Linked DNA regions of Homo sapiens. The gene in region 2 interacts genetically with the main gene of each other region. Each region holds a gene or a part of one and is shown on either strand. Other genes may lie near its edges. The genes, in order: SMAD7 and STRAP.

The links.
Region 1: of STRAP (region 2) and SMAD7, changing one enhances a phenotype caused by changing the other (phenotypic enhancement), as found in Homo sapiens cells (one study listed by BioGRID).

The regions. Positions count from the first base shown.
Region 1 is NC_000018.10:48,947,420-48,955,662, forward strand, and holds the start of SMAD7 (mothers against decapentaplegic homolog 7), read right to left. Parts: upstream 3,547-8,243; 5' UTR 3,006-3,546; coding exon 2,393-3,005; intron 1,915-2,392; exon of another isoform or gene 1,810-1,914; intron 1,019-1,809; coding exon 965-1,018; intron 1-964. UniProt on the Homo sapiens protein: Antagonist of signaling by TGF-beta (transforming growth factor) type 1 receptor superfamily members; has been shown to inhibit TGF-beta (Transforming growth factor) and activin signaling by associating with their receptors thus preventing SMAD2 access.
Region 2 is NC_000012.12:15,884,393-15,892,796, forward strand, and holds part of STRAP (serine-threonine kinase receptor-associated protein), read left to right. Parts: intron 1-5,535; coding exon 5,536-5,617; intron 5,618-6,204; coding exon 6,205-6,277; intron 6,278-8,404. UniProt on the Homo sapiens protein: The SMN complex catalyzes the assembly of small nuclear ribonucleoproteins (snRNPs), the building blocks of the spliceosome, and thereby plays an important role in the splicing of cellular pre-mRNAs.

The DNA.
Region 1 (8,243 bases), on a different chromosome or scaffold from region 2:
GGAGCTAAATGGTGCCCAACCCTTCACTTTTCCTTCTCCCAGAACCTTGGCAAAATAAAAATGTCCCAAGTATTAATGTTTTTTTCAGGCACCAGTATACAGGCACAAAAACCAAGGTTACATACAACCTGTACTTTTAGCAAACAGATCTATCTCCTACTGTAAGAGGGAGCTCCAGGAATTTGGGTTTGTCCTTGTTGTCACCCCCAAGTTCATTTTGCTGACCCTGTCCCCAGCACTGTGATGTCCAGAGGATGGACCCCTGTGCTGCTGCCGGCCAGAAGTTGAATGCAGACAACCACAACAGGGCTGGTGCCAGTCTCAAATGGGCTTCTGCCATGGCTTCATGCCAGCCAGTGACAAAGCAGCAGACAGGCAGAGCTATGCTTCAAACTTTGATAGTCCCTATGGCGAATACTGAGAAAACCCCGGGAGAGGACTGACTTGCAGGTGACTGGAGCAGGAGGAACCTACCCCCCCCCCCCTTTTACTGGCTGTTGCCTATACTTCTGAAAAGTTCTAGTGTCTACTCCAGACCAAAGTCTTCTTTGCACCTTTTTAAACCGTCTTCCCATCTATCGAATCACCCTTTCCATTATTCCCACTGATGCTCCTGGCACTCACTAAGTCTCCGAGTTATCCCCATCAACCAGTCCTATTTGGTTCCCAAGACACTTCTCTCTGGACTAAAGCTTCCACGTGTTAAAGCTGAGCCCACCGGCTACACAGCACAAATACATGAAAAAGGAACAAAATGTAAAGCATATCAAGGGAACGTCTTTGCAAAAACAGCAAAAAACCCAGCCACAACAGAAAAATTCACCAAACTTCCAACAGAGGAAACCTAGAACCAACGTGAAGCCCAGCACCTCCCCAAGCCTTTGCCTACACACAAAAAGCCACGTTCTAGAGGCTCTATTTCTAACTTAAGATAAGCAGGATATTTTAAAAATCATCTACTCACCAGTTGGTTTGAGAAAATCCATCGGGTATCTGGAGTAAGGAGGGGGGGGAGACTCTGAAATTAAAAAAGCAAGAGAAAATAAAGGCCCAGCCATGAGAAGAGAGATAGAAACTTATGATAACAGAGGCATTCTTTTAGCCCAACTGTTTGTCTTAGCTGTGGGGGTTGGAGGCAGGGCCGCGAGGCGGTGATTGCCTTGATATTTAGCTGTCAGATAAACAAAAGAGGCCGCCTGGCGCCAGCCTCGGCGCTCCGCTCCTCCACGTCTGCGGCCGCAGCCGCCGCGCTCGGCTGGCCCGGCTGGAAACCACCGGCTCGGCCGGAGCCGCGCACTTCACAGTTCACAGGGCGGGGGGCGACCATGCCCCCTCCCCGTCCTCGGACTCCAGACCCAGCTCCCAGCAACCTCGGCTCCCCGCCCCGGCCCGCCCCCCAGGCGTGCAATTCACCTCTGCCCCCGCCGGTCCGCTCGGCACTCGCGCGGGGGACACGGGGCTGCCCATTCCTAGCGCACTCGGGAGATGCATCCCAAGCGTGCTGGGGAACGTGGGGGATCTGCGGGCGCCCGGGGTGAACCCTCACATCACACTCTGTGTACAGAGACGTAGAGTAAAGGAAGGAATGGAGAAAGCTGAGAGGATAAAAGGAAAGGAGTTTCAGGGTCTCAGCCGAGAAGCCCAGGCCCCAGCGCAGTAAGAGGCGACAACGTCACTGAGGCGCCGGGGCCCCACTAATCTACAGACTTATCTGTGCGGAAGGAAGGAAAAAGTAGGGGACACCCAACTTCTCCTGCCTGTTTGTTCCTCTGCACCCTGGGGCTGGCAGAGTTGAAAGGAGACAGATACCCAGTTCGGCCTTCCATCCAACTCTCTTTGCCCCAAAACTCCAAAGGTGCGCGGCCACGACAGTATCTGGGCCACTGGTGTTCGACGTGATTCTCCGTATTTACTAAAGGAGTAAATACGGAGACCTTCCAGCCTTTATAGCACGCCTCTCCCAGCCTTCCTTGGCGGGCCTGGACCAAATCCAACTCGGCCACACACCTCAACGTCTTTCCGGGTGCGGGGAGGCGTGACCCCCCCACCTCCCTCTGCACCCCCTTGTTGATCCGGAAATGAAGGCGTCTAATTTTTAACCGCAGACTGCAGGAGCAGTGCCCGTAGACCCCTTCGGGGCAACACAGGAGAAAACCTGGAAGGGAACCCCCAGGGAATGCCCTTTGAGTTTCCCCTTGTCCCTTCTCTACTTTCAGCCCCCAGTCTCTTCCCAGGAGGGTATGCACACTCTCCCAGGAGGGTATGCACACTCTCCCAGGAGGGTATGCACACTCCCCCTGGAGGGATGGCTGCACAAACGCACTGCCCTAGGGGCTTTTCTTCCAGCACTGGCGCTCCGGAAAATGTTGGGGGTAGGGGGACAACTTCTCACCTAGTTCGCAGAGTCGGCTAAGGTGATGGGGGTTGCAGCACACCAGCTCGGGGTTGATCTTCCCGTAAGATTCACAGCAACACAGCCTCTTGACTTCCGAGGAATGCCTGAGATCCGGCCACCTGAACACTTTGCACAGCAGGAGGGGGAGCGAGTAGGACGAGGGCGGCTGCGCAGGCTGCGCGCCGGCGGGCGCCCCCGGGCCCAGCCTGCAGTCCAGGCGGCCGGGCAGCAGGAGGCACGCGGTGCGCGTCCCGCCGCGGGACTCCACGGCCTGGAGCAGCAGCTCCAGCTGCCGCTCCTTCAGTTTCTTGAGCACCGAGTGCGTGAGCGCCTTCAGATCCGCCTCGGCGCCCCCGGCCGCGCCGGCGCCCGCGGCTGGCGGGTGGGGATGGTGGTGACCTTTGGCACCTCGCACCGCCTTGCCCAGGCAGCATCCAGCCCTGCCCGGGCCGCCGCCACCGGCCCCATGCGCTCGGCTGTCCGTCGCCCCTTCTCCCCGCAGCTCGCCTCCTCCTCCACCTCCCCCTGCGCCCTCCTCCTCGTCCTCGCCGCCGGGCGCACGGCTCCTCCAGAGACGCCGGACGAGCGCAGATCGTTTGGTCCTGAACATGCGGGGCGAGGAGGCGAGGAGAAAAGTCGTTTGCCTGCTAAGGAGCGAACATGACCTCCGCACACCATGAAGAAGTCGGGCGCCGAGTTGGGGCAGCAGGCGCAGGCGACAGCAGCAGCAGCAGGGGCCCGGGCAGGAGCGGCGGCGGCCCGAGGGGCGCTCCGTGGCATGCGCCAGTCTCCCGGAGGCCGGGGCGCGCGCGGGGGCCCGGGGGCGCCCGCCGGGGATCGGGGGCCTGCGCTCCGGCTGCCCCACCCCGCGCGGCCCGCGCCCTGCGCGGCTCTCCGGCCCCGGCGCGCCCCGGAGGAACCCGGCCGCCGCTTCCCTGGGGACGGCCGAGCCTGCCCCCGTCGGCGCCTCCCCAAAAAGAGGCCCCCCCGCAGTGGCTCCCGAATGTCGGGCTCGCCAGCCTCGGCTTCCTACATGGAAGGTCCGCGGGGGCAAAAAACGAAAGGCGTTCGGCTGGGCTGTTGGAAGAAGGAAAAAGCCTCTTTCCCCCTTGCTAAGCAACTTAATTTGGGGGTGGGGAGAAGCAGGCAATTAAAAAAAAAAAAGCAAGCGATTTATTTTTTTCCTCTATATCCTTAGTAACCGGATCTCCTCGAATTCCGCGCACACGAAGACTCAGGGGAGGGGGCCGAGTGGACTTCACCCCGCATGAGACGTCTGGCAAAATAAGAAGGCTCTCGCAAAACCTAACAACCAAATATGCAAAGCCCCAAATGAAAACCACCACCTCCTCGAACCTCAGAGGTCTGGGGGCGTCCGGCTGGAACTGGGGTTTAAAAAAAGAAAATGTTTACAAAGTATAACAAGATGTTTGATGGGTGGAAAAATGTATCCACGAGTTACATCCCCCCGTTTCCTTGCAAAGCCCCGCTGGTCTTCCTCTCCTTTTCTTCTGCCAAAAAAAAAAAAAAAAATCGTGTATTTTTTTAATCCACAGAAAGCTTTGGCTAGACCGCTTCAATCCTGCGCATCTGGGTGGTTTAGGGGAGTCTCTGGTCTTTCCCCCTGCGCTCCTGGGGGCCCAGGTCCTCGGCGGGGACTTCCTCGAGGCTGGCGCGGGCGCAGGGGCAGAAGATGCTGCGGCGGCGGCTGAGCCCGGCGGGGCTGACAGCGCGGGGGAGGGTGGCGCGGCGGCGGCGGAGGGCCCCAGACGGGTCGCGCGTTCTCGCCCCCCCCGGGCACAAGCTGCTTGCTAGTGCAGGGGCCGCCGATGTCCCTTCCCCTGGCCGCGGCTGGCCGCCGAGGCTCCCCGCATGGGCTGCTCGCCTCGACCCAGCTGCGGCGGCAGGAGGCCCCGGTGTCCTCTCGGCGCCTCCTCCTCCGAGACTCTCCTCGTCGCGCCCGGGAGCCTCCTTGTCCCCGGTCCGCCCTCTCCTGGCGCTCCGGTCCTTCTGCCGCCGCCAGGGGCTCGCCGCGCCGCACTCAGGGGCTCAGGGGCCGGGCGCTCGGCGGCTCGGCGCCGACGGACTGGCTCTGTCTCGGGCAGCTCTCTCCCGCGCGGCGAGCGGACCGAGCACGGCGCCCGGCTGGCTCGGCTGGCGCGGCTCGGGGACAGGATCTTCCGTGCGCCGAGCAGCAAGCGAGTGTGCCCGGGGCTCACCGCCTCCCGCAAGGCCTCCCGCCCCCGCCCCCTTCCCTCCCCCTTCCTCCCCCTTCCCTCCCCCGCCCCCAGCCGCCGCAGCCGCGCCGCCTCCTCCCCGCCCCCCCGCACCCCCCCTCCGGCCCTCTGCTCGGCTGGTTCCACTGCGCAGTGGCGCGCCCGGCTCCGGCCTCGTCACGTGGCCGTCTAGACACCCTGTCGCTTTAAAAAAAAAAAAAAAGCGATTGTGTTTCGCAAACAACAGATCGGGTTTCTAAAAGCTATTTCTCCCCCCAACCCCCCGCCACCGCCACCCCCTCCCGGGTCTGTAGAGGGGGTACCGATGGAGGGGAGAGAGATAGGTGGGGGGCAGAGAAGCTCCCAGAATGGATTGAGCCCCGGCCGGAGCCATGGAGAAATTGGAAAAGCAGGGAGCACCGAGCGGGCTTCGCCGCGAGTTTTGGAGCTGAGCGAGCGGGTCGGTGGCCCGATTTCGACCCGGCTGGGTTTCGCGGTGGCCATCTCGCGCGCGCTCGCCCTAGCGCTTCATTCATTGGTTTTGTTTTAAAGGCCCTGGCGGTGGATCCCTTGGCCGCGCCCGAGGGCAAGGGGAGGAGAGCGCTGTCTCGGTTTAAAAGACATTTATACCGGACTGGACCGAGGCCCTGGGAAGTGTGCGCTGAGGGGAACAGCCGCCGAGGGCGGGGAGGCGGCGTGAATATGACCTCAGCGGCGGCCGCGCGCTCCCTCCCGCCCTCTCAGCTCCGGGCTCCGGTTTCTAGGACTGCCTGGAGAAGTGTGTCTTGTGCACAGCTCTGGAATGCATTTGGCCGGCTGACGAGCTGTGAGGGGCAGCATCCCGGCGGGAGAAGGGGAGCGGGGGTGGGGGCTCGCCTGCGCGCCGCGGGCAGGTTTCCTCCCGGGCCCGGAAGACCTCCGCCACCCGCCACCCTGCCTCCCGGCGCGGGAAGGTTACCCAGCGAGCAGACCTGCCTAGGGCATTCATTTGCATGCAGGCCCTGTTTCTGGGCCTCGTAGCTTTCAAGGTGCTTAGAGTCAGAGAGTTTATTCCTTGACCCCAGGTCCCGAAGAAACATATACCCAAGCTGGCGGGTTACTGCATAGAAACGGGCATGGCATTGCTAGGGCATAAACGCATTTACAGCGTGAAAGCTGATGGCTCCGAGAAACGTAATGATTTAAATACACACACATCAGTATTGATGAGGCCACTAGTTGGCATGGTGATCTAACCTCACTTCATATTCAGTGAAATACGATTTTTTTAAAAAGCCATTGAGAATTGTGAGATCAGGCCAGCAGTGAAACTCGTTGGGGGCTTTAAAGAATCTTTTTTTCTTTCTTTCTTTCTTTTTTTTTTTTTTTTTAGAGTCTCACTCTTCACCCGGGCTAGAGTCCAGTGGCTCGATTTCGGCTCACTGCAGCCTCTGCCTCCCCAGATCAAACGATTCTCCCACCTCAGCCTCCGGAGTAGCTGGGACTACAGGCGCGCGCCACCACATCTGGCTAATTTTTGTATTTTTTGGTAGTGACGCGGTTTAACCATGTTGGCCAGGCTGATGTGGAACTCCTGACCTCAAGTGATCTACCTGCCTCAGCCTCTCAAAGTACTGGGAGTACAGGCGTGAGCCACTGCACCTGGCCTTAAAATAATCTTTAGAAAAGGTGAAATGTGCCCAGGTGCGATGGCTCACGCTTGTAATCCCAGCACTTTGGGAGGCTGAGGCAGGTGGATCACCTGAGGTCAAGAGTTTGAGACCAGCCTGGCCAACATGGTGAAACCCGTCTCTACTAAAAATACAAAAATTAGCCAGGCGGGTGGCGCGCGCCAGTAATCCCAGCTGAGACAGGAGAATTGCTTGAACCCGGGAGACGGAGGTTGCAGTGAGCTGAGATCGCGCCACTGCACTCCATCCTGGGCAACAGAGTGAGACTCTGTCTCAAAAAAAGAAAAGAAAAAAAGAAAAGTAAAGATGAAATGTACATCTTGCCGGCTAAATTATATGTTCTTAAAAGGAAAAGGCAGGAATGAATCTTAGCCGCCTTTAGAGCTCAAGTCCTCTCCCCCTCTAGCAATTAAAAAGATTTCTAACATATTAGTACAATAGTAGATGCTTAATAAATATTTAGAAATCAACACTTAGGGCTTAAGGGGCATTTGGACCCTTCCTCCACCCCACCAAAAGTACCTTTGGTAATATAAATTCAAGAGGAAATCAGCAACATTGCTTACATGATCATTTCCAGGCAAGGAGATCCTAACACTTATTGACTTGGAAGATAGTAGGATGCCAAGCAGTGCAGAACCCTACTGGACGGACAGAAGCTGCCATTCTGAACATTTACTGTGTAAGGCCACATAAGCTGCAGTTGTATAACATCATAATTTTGTTGTAAATTAAAATATGGCTTGTATAAAAGGGCATTGAAACCTTGTGTGTGTATTAAAAAAACATTCTAAGAAGCAACCTGTGAAGACAGCAGCTGAGAAAGCACAGGAGAGAATGGAGAAGGAGTGTAATCCCAGCACTTTGGGAGGCCTATCATGATAGGCAAGGGAAGACGAAAGAGACAGAAGTGGGATTTTTTTTTTTTTTTTTTTTTTTGAGATGGAGCCTTGCTTTGTCACCCAGCCTAGAGGGCAGTGGCATGATCTCAGCTCACTGCAACCTCCGCCTCCTGGGTTCAAGCAATTCTCCTGCCTCAGCCTCCCTAGTAGCTGGAACTACACGTGCACTCCACACCTCGCTAATTTTTTTGTATTTTAGCAGAGACAAGGTTTCACCGTGTTGCCCAGGCTAGTCTCGAACTCCTGAGCTCAGGCGATCCACCCGCCTCAGCCTCCCAAAGTGTGGGATAACAGGCATGAGCCACAGCGCCCGGCCCAGAAATGGGATTTTTAAGGTGTCTGGGAAATGTATCATATTTTCACCTTAGAAAGGCTTAGAAAGAGTACCAGACTAGAGGTCAGAAAACCTGATTCCAGGCTGGGGCGTTGCCGCTCACTGGTTAAGCAACTAGGGCCAACAGCAATCCCCACGTTAGGCGAGCACTTGGCAGAGTTTATAAGATTTTCTGGGCAAGTTTCCGCTCTCTAGGGTCCCATTCCCTCTCTGTTCTGGATCTCCCTAAAAGATCTTCACTTATTGAGAGTGGTCAGACCAGGCTTCATAGCAACAGAAAGGACTTAAATAAGCAGAGAAAGTAGAGGTCATAATTCTAATTCAGTTTCTTGGCTAAATGGAGAATCTGAAGAATCTTTTGGAGATCTGGCCAGTAGTGCTAAGGCTCTGTAATGAGAGGCCGGAGCACACACAGGGCAGGTAGGTTTCATGGGTGTTTCAAGAGTGGAGTCTGACGTCACGGTTTGTCTGGGTGGAACATGCATGTACTTGCAGAGATATGTTCCCGTATAGTGTAATTGTAGGTGTATTAATTCAGGTGTCACCCCTCTCTACACGGCTTTCCTCTTCCATTTTGCTACCCTAGGTAGAAGCTGGGTGCGGTGCTGAGCAAGTAGCTACAATGATTGGTGCTGCTTTATAGCTCCCTGGCATCCCCTGAATCAGTTAACATCCCAGCTTTCCTGATAGCCCCACCCCATCACATTCTTATCCCTCTCCTCTCCA
Region 2 (8,404 bases):
CCTGTCTTCCCTTTGCCATTTTAGTAGTTCATGACCTTTGATGTACATTAGAATATCTGGAGAGCTTTTCAAATATTCAAATGGTATGAGTCCCAGAAATTCGGATTTTTAAAACTTTTTTTTTTTTTTACTTTTTTACTATATATTTATATTTTATACTTTTTACTACATTTAAAAATATTTTTTAATACTTTTTACTATACAGACAGTATCTAGCTATGTTGTCCAGGCTGTCTTAAACTCTTGGCCTCCATGCCTCAGCCTCTCAAAGAGCTGGGGTTACGGGGGTGAACTACTGTGCCTGGTACAGAAATTCTGGTTTGATTGGTCTGGGGATGGAGTACTGGTCATACTGATTATTGGTGTTTTTTTATTTTTCTTTCTTCCTTTTCTTTCCTGATGTGCAGTCATAGAATTGCTGACCTAAAGGACACATTTCAATTGTTGGCCCTTTACAGTTTGCTTCATCCTAGTTCATCAGCATCATCCTCTGCCATTGCACACCATAAACCTACAATCTAATTATACTAATCTTATTGTTGCCAGAATATACCTTACCTGTTCTGACTTTTGGCGGTTAATTATGTTATTAAACTGACTTGCAGTGGCCCTCGTTGCCTTTTTGGGAATGTATCATATTTTATAAATCTTGTTATCTCCAGTTCCTACTTGGTATTTGTAACTTAGGAATTTGACACTTCATTGTTTAAACTGATGAAGGCAATATCAAGAACTGTTGTGCATACACAGATTTATTAGACTTAAGAGGCTAGAGAGTACAAGTGGTGTTTTTTTTTTTTTTTTTTTTTTTTTAAAGACAGAGTCTTGCTATGTCCCCAAGGCTGGAGTGCGGTGGCACAGTCTCGGCTCACTGCAACCTCCACCTCCCGGGTTCAAGTGATTCTCCCACCTCAGCTTCCTGAGAGGCTGGGACTACAGGTGCACGCCACCACGCCTGGCTAATTTTTGTATATTTAGTAGAGACGGGGTTTCGCCATGTTGGCCAGGCCGGTCTCGAACTCCTGACCTCAAGTGATCTGCCCGCCTTGGCCTCCCAAAGTGCTGGGATTACAGGTGTGAGCCACCGTGCCTGGCCTTTTTTTTTTTTTTTTTTAACAACCTCACACTAAGGAGCAATTGTAAATCTGCTGCCTCCTTCATTTTAAGTACATTAAACATACCAATTTTAGAATGAAAAAATGAAGGCTGATTGACTGTGGTGGCAGATACGTGACTGTATGCTCTTGTTTATTGAAACAGTGTTGTTTTTATGCTTTCTTAACATTTCAAGTCTCAATGTCTGTGTTTACAAGTGGTGTATTAAGAGCATGAAGGCTGGAGCCAGATGACCTGAATTTGAATTGGTGGCCTCATGCACTTTATTTAACCATTTTTTTTTCTGTCATGGTACCTAATTCATAGGTTGGTTTTGAATATTAAATAAGTTAATATGTTTCGAATACTTACAACATTGCCTGAAGTCTATTACACCTATGAAAGTGTTACATATGTAAAGTAACGATGATAGCTACCATGTAAACTATCACCACCCGCACTTGATCAAAATCACATATTATTTTGAAACTAATATGGCTAAAGCCTTCAAACTATTTGGCCTCATATAAGGAAGATTGAATAGATTTAAATGTCAAGAAGGAAGATTTTTGTGATTTTTTTTTCCCCCTCCTCAGTTAAGGCTTTAGGTGCTGTGTTAGAGTGGAAAATAATAACAAGCATTGGCACTAGGTGGGCTTGCATTCGTGTGCTAACTATGCTGTGTATTTCCAGTTTGATCATCATAGGATTTTTTTTTTTTTTTGAAACAGGGTCTTAGGTGCCTAGGCTAGAGTGCAGTGGCGTGATCATAGCTCACTGCAGCCTCTATCTCCCAGTCTCAAGCAGTTCTCCAACCTCAGCCTCCTGAATAGTGACCACAGGCGTGTACTACCATGCTTGGCTAATCTTTGTGTTTTTTGTAGAGATGGGCTTCACCATGTTGTCCAGGTTGGTCTTGAACTCTTGGGCTCAAGCGATCTGCCCACCATGGCAGGATGTTTCTTAAATGTCGGCTTTCATATCTGTAAAATGGGACTAAGACCCATGAGATTATTGGAGGAACAGAGAGATCTTTCTCCACCATATATCCCTGAAGTCCAATATGATCTCTGTCACATAGTAGGTGCTCAATAAATGCTAGTTGAGATTTATCCCTCATTTCCTCTATGTCTTGTCTGTGGGGTGTAGGAGCGTGTTTTCATGTGCGTGTTTGTGTGTGTGTGTATTCTCTCCAAGAAGTTACTCCCCACAGCCTACCTGATTAGTCATGGTTGGTATAAAGCATTTTTAGAAACAATTTTTTTTTCCCTCCATTCTTACGTTTCTTGGAAAACTCATTTATGGTGTGGTCATTTAGAAGTGGAATTTGGTCCCGTTTCTTGTGGAGAAATTTAGCAGAATAGGTCTGTGGACTAGTGTAGAATGTTATCTTGGAGTAATTCGGGCAATTGAGTCCAGTGTTGAGTACAGTGTCCCTAAAACACCATCTCTTTGTATCTATTTGGGAAGAGTGCCAAAGTAAAGACAATTCTGTGCTGTGCTCCCAAGAGGGCTTAAGTAGATCTGGGATTGGGTCCAGGAATTTATAGGTAATCACAATGTATCACTCTTTCTTTCTTGTAAAGCCAATAGAAATATCTAATTTTAGTTTTAATAAGGTTCTTGATAAATCGAAAATGGTATTATCTCCTAGATGACTTGGTCAACATGTTAAGGTATTTGGGCAATTTTTTAAAAATCTTAAACTGGCCTGTTTTGTTGAAGGTTTAAATAAGTAAGTTAAGCAGCTCCTATTATGAGACTTACGGTAAGTTCATTCTGAGGATATGGAAAGTATCAGGCAGCATTATTATTTGCAAGAAACTGGGGTATAAGAGGTAACAGTAGTTTAAGGAGATGACAAGTACTTCGTGGGATGTGAAGAAAATGTTGGAGGGTTAGCTGCTGAAAGGGTATTGTTAATAGCGCTTTACTGTCTTGATTTGAGCCCTGTGGCCAACTAATATATGTCAATTTCTTGCCTGGAGATTGAATAATACATTAGGAAACATTTAGATTAGATCCATTTTAGGGCTCTTACTGTGAATAATGGAAATCTGCCAGAGTTAGTACATGCCCTGTCAGAAAATGTCATGCCTCTATTTTAGTACTGTTTCTAAATAGGAGGAAAAACTACAGACACATTACCTCTCTGGTTAATATTACTACTTTGGTCACTCCAACTCTCTTCTCACCTTTGAATAGACACAGTCTAAGCAGAATCTTAAGATTTTAGAGCTGCCATGTTGGCGTTAGCCTGTAGCTACTTAGGAGGCTGAGGTGGAAGGATCTTGAGGCCAGGAGTTCAAGTATAGCTTGGGCAATATACCAAGATCCTGTCTCAAAAAAAAAAAGAGAGAGAGGTTTTAAGTTTATGGGAGATTATTTAATAAACTTGAAATTAGCATATCAAAGGACATTGCCCGGGTTTCTTTGGAGACTTGTGAATAATTAGAATAGTAATTTTAGATACATTTGTTGTTTTCTTCACTTTTGATGCTTTCTGTCATTCTAATACTTGTGAACCCTTACCACAACCATGAAATGCATTTCACTGTGATTAAGGATATATGTAAACAAAAAACAAAGCAAATTTAAGCACCGTAATAAGTGGAGTTCTGTGGGAGAACAGAAAGGAATGGTTAATTATTGGAGTTGAGGATAAATAGTTTCAAAGAAAAGATAGCATTTGAAATGAGCCCTAAGGGTGAGTAGAACTTTAATAGCTAAGAATGTAAAATACAGACTTAAGAGAATAATATAAACAAGAACATAGGAGCCTGGAAGAAAATACGTAAGTTATTTGAGGAGTGGTTTATAATCTAGTGTTGCTAGATTCAGAGAAACAATACAAAATGAGGTTGGGAAAGTAGATTGGGGCCAGAGAGTTGCATTGGAATGACAGAGAGAGGAGCAAGTTTCCTGGGCAAAGAGAAATGAATACTAGGGAGTTTAGCAGCAAGGCTACTTATAGTTGACATTATTTCTTTCAGAACATATTTATTCAGCCACTCACATGACCCACATTATTAAATATTGCAAGCTTTGGTAGTGTATCATGAGCATTCCTGTTAGATGGTCTTTCATATTCATTAACCACATTGCACATGCTATTAATGCTTATCTAGAATAGCCTTCCCTTCTTTTTCCCCTGATATATTTCTCTTTGCTTCTTCCGACGGCTAGCTCTGTTACTTACATTTTCTGGACAATATCTAGGTGCTTTTTTCTGAGTTTTTATAGCCATATATATGTCTTTTAATTATATTTCTTAAATGTGATATTTAATGCATGTTTTTCTCCTCAGCTAAAGCTCTACTATGGCAAGAACCTACTGTGGGGTATTTTTTGTCTCCCATTTGTGCCTTAGCACTAAGTATAGAATGATATATATTTAATATATTTTATTATGTATTGGGGTAAGCAAAAGAAAAGATACATCTTGCTTTTCTCTGATTTTTTTCCCTCTACCATTTTATTGCCCACTGTGTTCCTGAAAATAAATAGCAGTTGCATTAAAATGGAAATCTCTATGGAACATAGCTTTTTCACTCTTAGCAATTCTTTTCCCTGTCTGCAAAGTTTTCTTGTTTATTTTTCACTGACCTGTTCTGATCTAAAATCAACTTTTTTTTCCCCCTTCCTTAAGCTTTTTTATTTGGGGGAACCCTTTTAGAGTAATTTTGTAAAGTATTGCTCAACTATTACCCGCCCAGAATATACATACACATATAAATGTATGTATACCTATAACCAACTTGTATTTTGGGGTGGGGTGGGACAGAAAAAACAATGTAAAGATTAAAATAGTCAGTGTTAGCATTATATAATCAAAGGCTGATAGTTTGGGGGAAGTTAACTGTACTAGAGTTTGAAATTTTAAGTCAGCTTTGAAGAAGAGATGAAGTGGACATTGTCTCTCCACTATCTTAATTTAAAATTTTACTTAGCCTGTACCAAGGCTTTTCATTCCCTTGTAACATTTTTAAGGATTTCTGGTTTTTTTATTTATTTTTATTTTTTATTGTGCATCTGAGTGGAGAATAGAGAAAAAATTGGCATGGTGAAACTAAAAATTGGTTAAAATGTATGACAGGCTTGCTAAAGGGATATTATGGCTGTCAGCTAAAATAAAAGTAAGGAGGATGGGTTGGTTCATGAATCTTACTTGCTTAAATTGTTCATATCTTTTCCACTGTCAAAGAAAATTAGATTGGTTATAAAGTTTTTACAGAGAAATTTCTTTTCCCTTAAGCTTATTTAAATATTTTATCAAATGAAGTCTGTGAGGGATATTAGAGATAAAGGAGATTTATAATACATTTATGTAACATTTCACATATCTAACTTATTTGGTACTCATCAATATTATAATTGTATTTATCCTTTTAATATATTGGGTAATATTTATCCTACTAATTTTCTCTTTTTTACTTTTAGCAAAGTGTGGGATGCTGTCTCAGGAGATGAATTGATGACCCTGGCTCATAAACACATTGTCAAGACTGTGGATTTCACGCAGGTATCAGAAAATGGAATTTATTTTAGCGAGTTAAGTTGCTGGTACATAGTGTGATAATGCTTTTATACTTGATTGGTGTGTATATTTGATTGATATGTTTTGTGTGGAATATTTGTTATTTCTTGGTTCATATTTGATTTGATTGTGTATTAAGCTCTATGAATTTGTTTCATAGTTAATCCTGTCAAGCTTTTAAGATACTGTGGAACGAGTACCAGTCCTTCAACATGTAAAAAACATCTGAAAAGCTCAAGTAGCCTTCCCCAACTACTAATAGAAGGGAGAAGATAAATTTGAGATAATCAGAAAAGGGCCTCTCACAAGGGAGAGGAGTAGGATCAGGGGAGAATGGGAGAGTTCATGTATATGTAGTGTAGTGTAACGCTTTTGAAGTGGAAAGCTTACAAGTCTTGGCAGTTATGAGAGGTCAGCTGTTCCACAGTATCTTCTCAGAAGTAATTGGTTATGTCTTGGCATCTCTTTGTGATGTCTGTGAGCTAGATTTTGATTTTATTTGGTGTTGAAATTTGAAAGAGAAATAACTATTAAAATGGTTAATCTATTCACATTTTACTTTGTGTTTTCAGGATAGTAATTATTTGTTAACCGGGGGACAGGATAAACTGTTACGCATATATGACTTGAACAAACCTGAAGCAGGTAAGCATAATTTAAACATCAGCTTCTAGTTTTATTTTCTTTTAATTTAAATAACTGATTAAAGAATTTCATGCTCAGTACTCAAATTTGGAAAATAAAGATAGTCATGGCCGGGCACGGTGGCTCATACCTGTAATCCTAGCACTTTGGGAGACTGAGGCGGGTGGATCACTTGAGGTCAGGAGTTCGAGACCAGCCTGGCCAACATGGCAAAACCCCGTCTCTATTAAAAATAGAAAAATTAGCCAGGCATGGTGGCAGGCGCTTGTAATCCCAGCTACTTGGGAGGCTGAGGCAGGAGAATCGCTTGAACCCGGGAGGTGGAGGTTGCAGTGAGCCGAGATTGCGCCACTGCACTCCAGCCTGGGCAATAAGAGTGAAACTCAGTTTCAAAAAAAAAAAAATAGTCAACAAAGAAGAAAATTAAAACGTAATTCATCAGTTTTTGGTTTATAAACTTTCAGTCTTTTTTTCTGCACAGTTTTTAAAAAATAAGTTTATTTGCTATGTTGCTATTGTATAACCTTCTTCCAAACTGAAAATTTATTATGGCAAATTTTTATCATTAAGTTTTAAAACAGTGCAGAACAGTGTTACTATTTTTTGGTAAGAAAGATTGGTTATTTATAGAAGTTGGTGATGGTGAGAATTCTCAGTTGTGTGCACATATTGCTTAGATTTTTGAACCATGTAAATATATTAGCTATTCGAAAGAATTTTAAAAAATCTGCAGTTACAGTTTTTTCATTTCACTAAATAGTCTATGAACTGTTTGTAATGACTTTCTGGTTTTCCATCCTGTGGTTATATCATAAGTGAATTAACTAGTTTCCTGTTTTGGCCCGTTTGGGCTACTTACAGATTTTAAATATGAAAAGCAGTATTATGCTAAACATCCTTACAGTTGCAAATATTTTCACAATGATTTCCTTAAGATAACTAAGCAAAAGTAGAATTGGTGGGACAAAGAGGAGTGGAATTGTTGGAAGGTGGCCGGGCGCAGTGGCTCACGCCTGTAATCCCAGTGCTTTGGGAGGCCAAGGTGAGTGGATCACCTGAGGTCAGGAGTTCAATACCAGCCTGGCCAACATGGTGAAACCCCATCTCTACTAAAAGTACAAAAAAATTAGCTGGGCATGGTGGCAGGCGCCTGTAATTCCCAGGTACTCAGGAGGGTGAGGCAGGAGAATCGCTTGAACCCGGGAGGTAGAGGTTGCAGTGAGCCGAGATTGCATACCAGCCTGGGGGACAAGAGCAAAACTCCTTCTCAAAAAGAAAAAAAAAAAATGAATTGTTGGAAGCCATTGATAGATACTACCAAAGTGTCTTCCAACAAAGTATGGGTATATATGTATGTATCTATACCCAACATGTTCTAGTGAGCACTGATAACTAACTTTCTCTTTGTCAATTTAAGAAAATAATTCTGTTGTATTAATGTGAATATTCATGAGATTAAAATGCTATTGAATACCATTTTAATATATTCCCTTTTTTATGGAATAATTGCCTGTCTACCTTTTGTCCATTTATCTGTTGTGTTATTCATGTTTTTCTTACTGGTTTTTAAAGGTTCTTTATTGAATTCTAATTTATCATTTGCTTTTAAATTTTGTTAAGGTGGTTTTATGGTATATATGTTTTTAACATTTTGGTGGTGAAATTCTTTATGCATTCTCTCATTTTACAGAAGTTATAGGTGTCTTCCCCAGTCTACATGTTTATTTTATAATATTTTAATAATTTCCCTCACCATATATATACTTAGCTACCAAAACATGACAAACATAATTTTGTTTTATTATATATTTGGTATCTTTCAGATTTTATTATGTGGACATTTATGTAGTCATAAATCTATAAAATTTTAAAGAGTAATAAGAGAGTCAGAACCACATTGGAAATTAAGCGGTTATTCTCTTGAGATACCTTCCATTTCTGAGAACTTTTTAAAATATTTTACATTTTAATGTTACAGTAATTTGTTATGAAAACATTTTTAAGGTGAGGAAACAAAGCGCATTTGCAGATTTTTTTATTCTCCATTGCATGTAGAAGTTTTTTTCTCCTTTCTTTTTTGATAAATCTATGCCAAAACATAGCAAAGGACTCTGACCTCACTTCTTC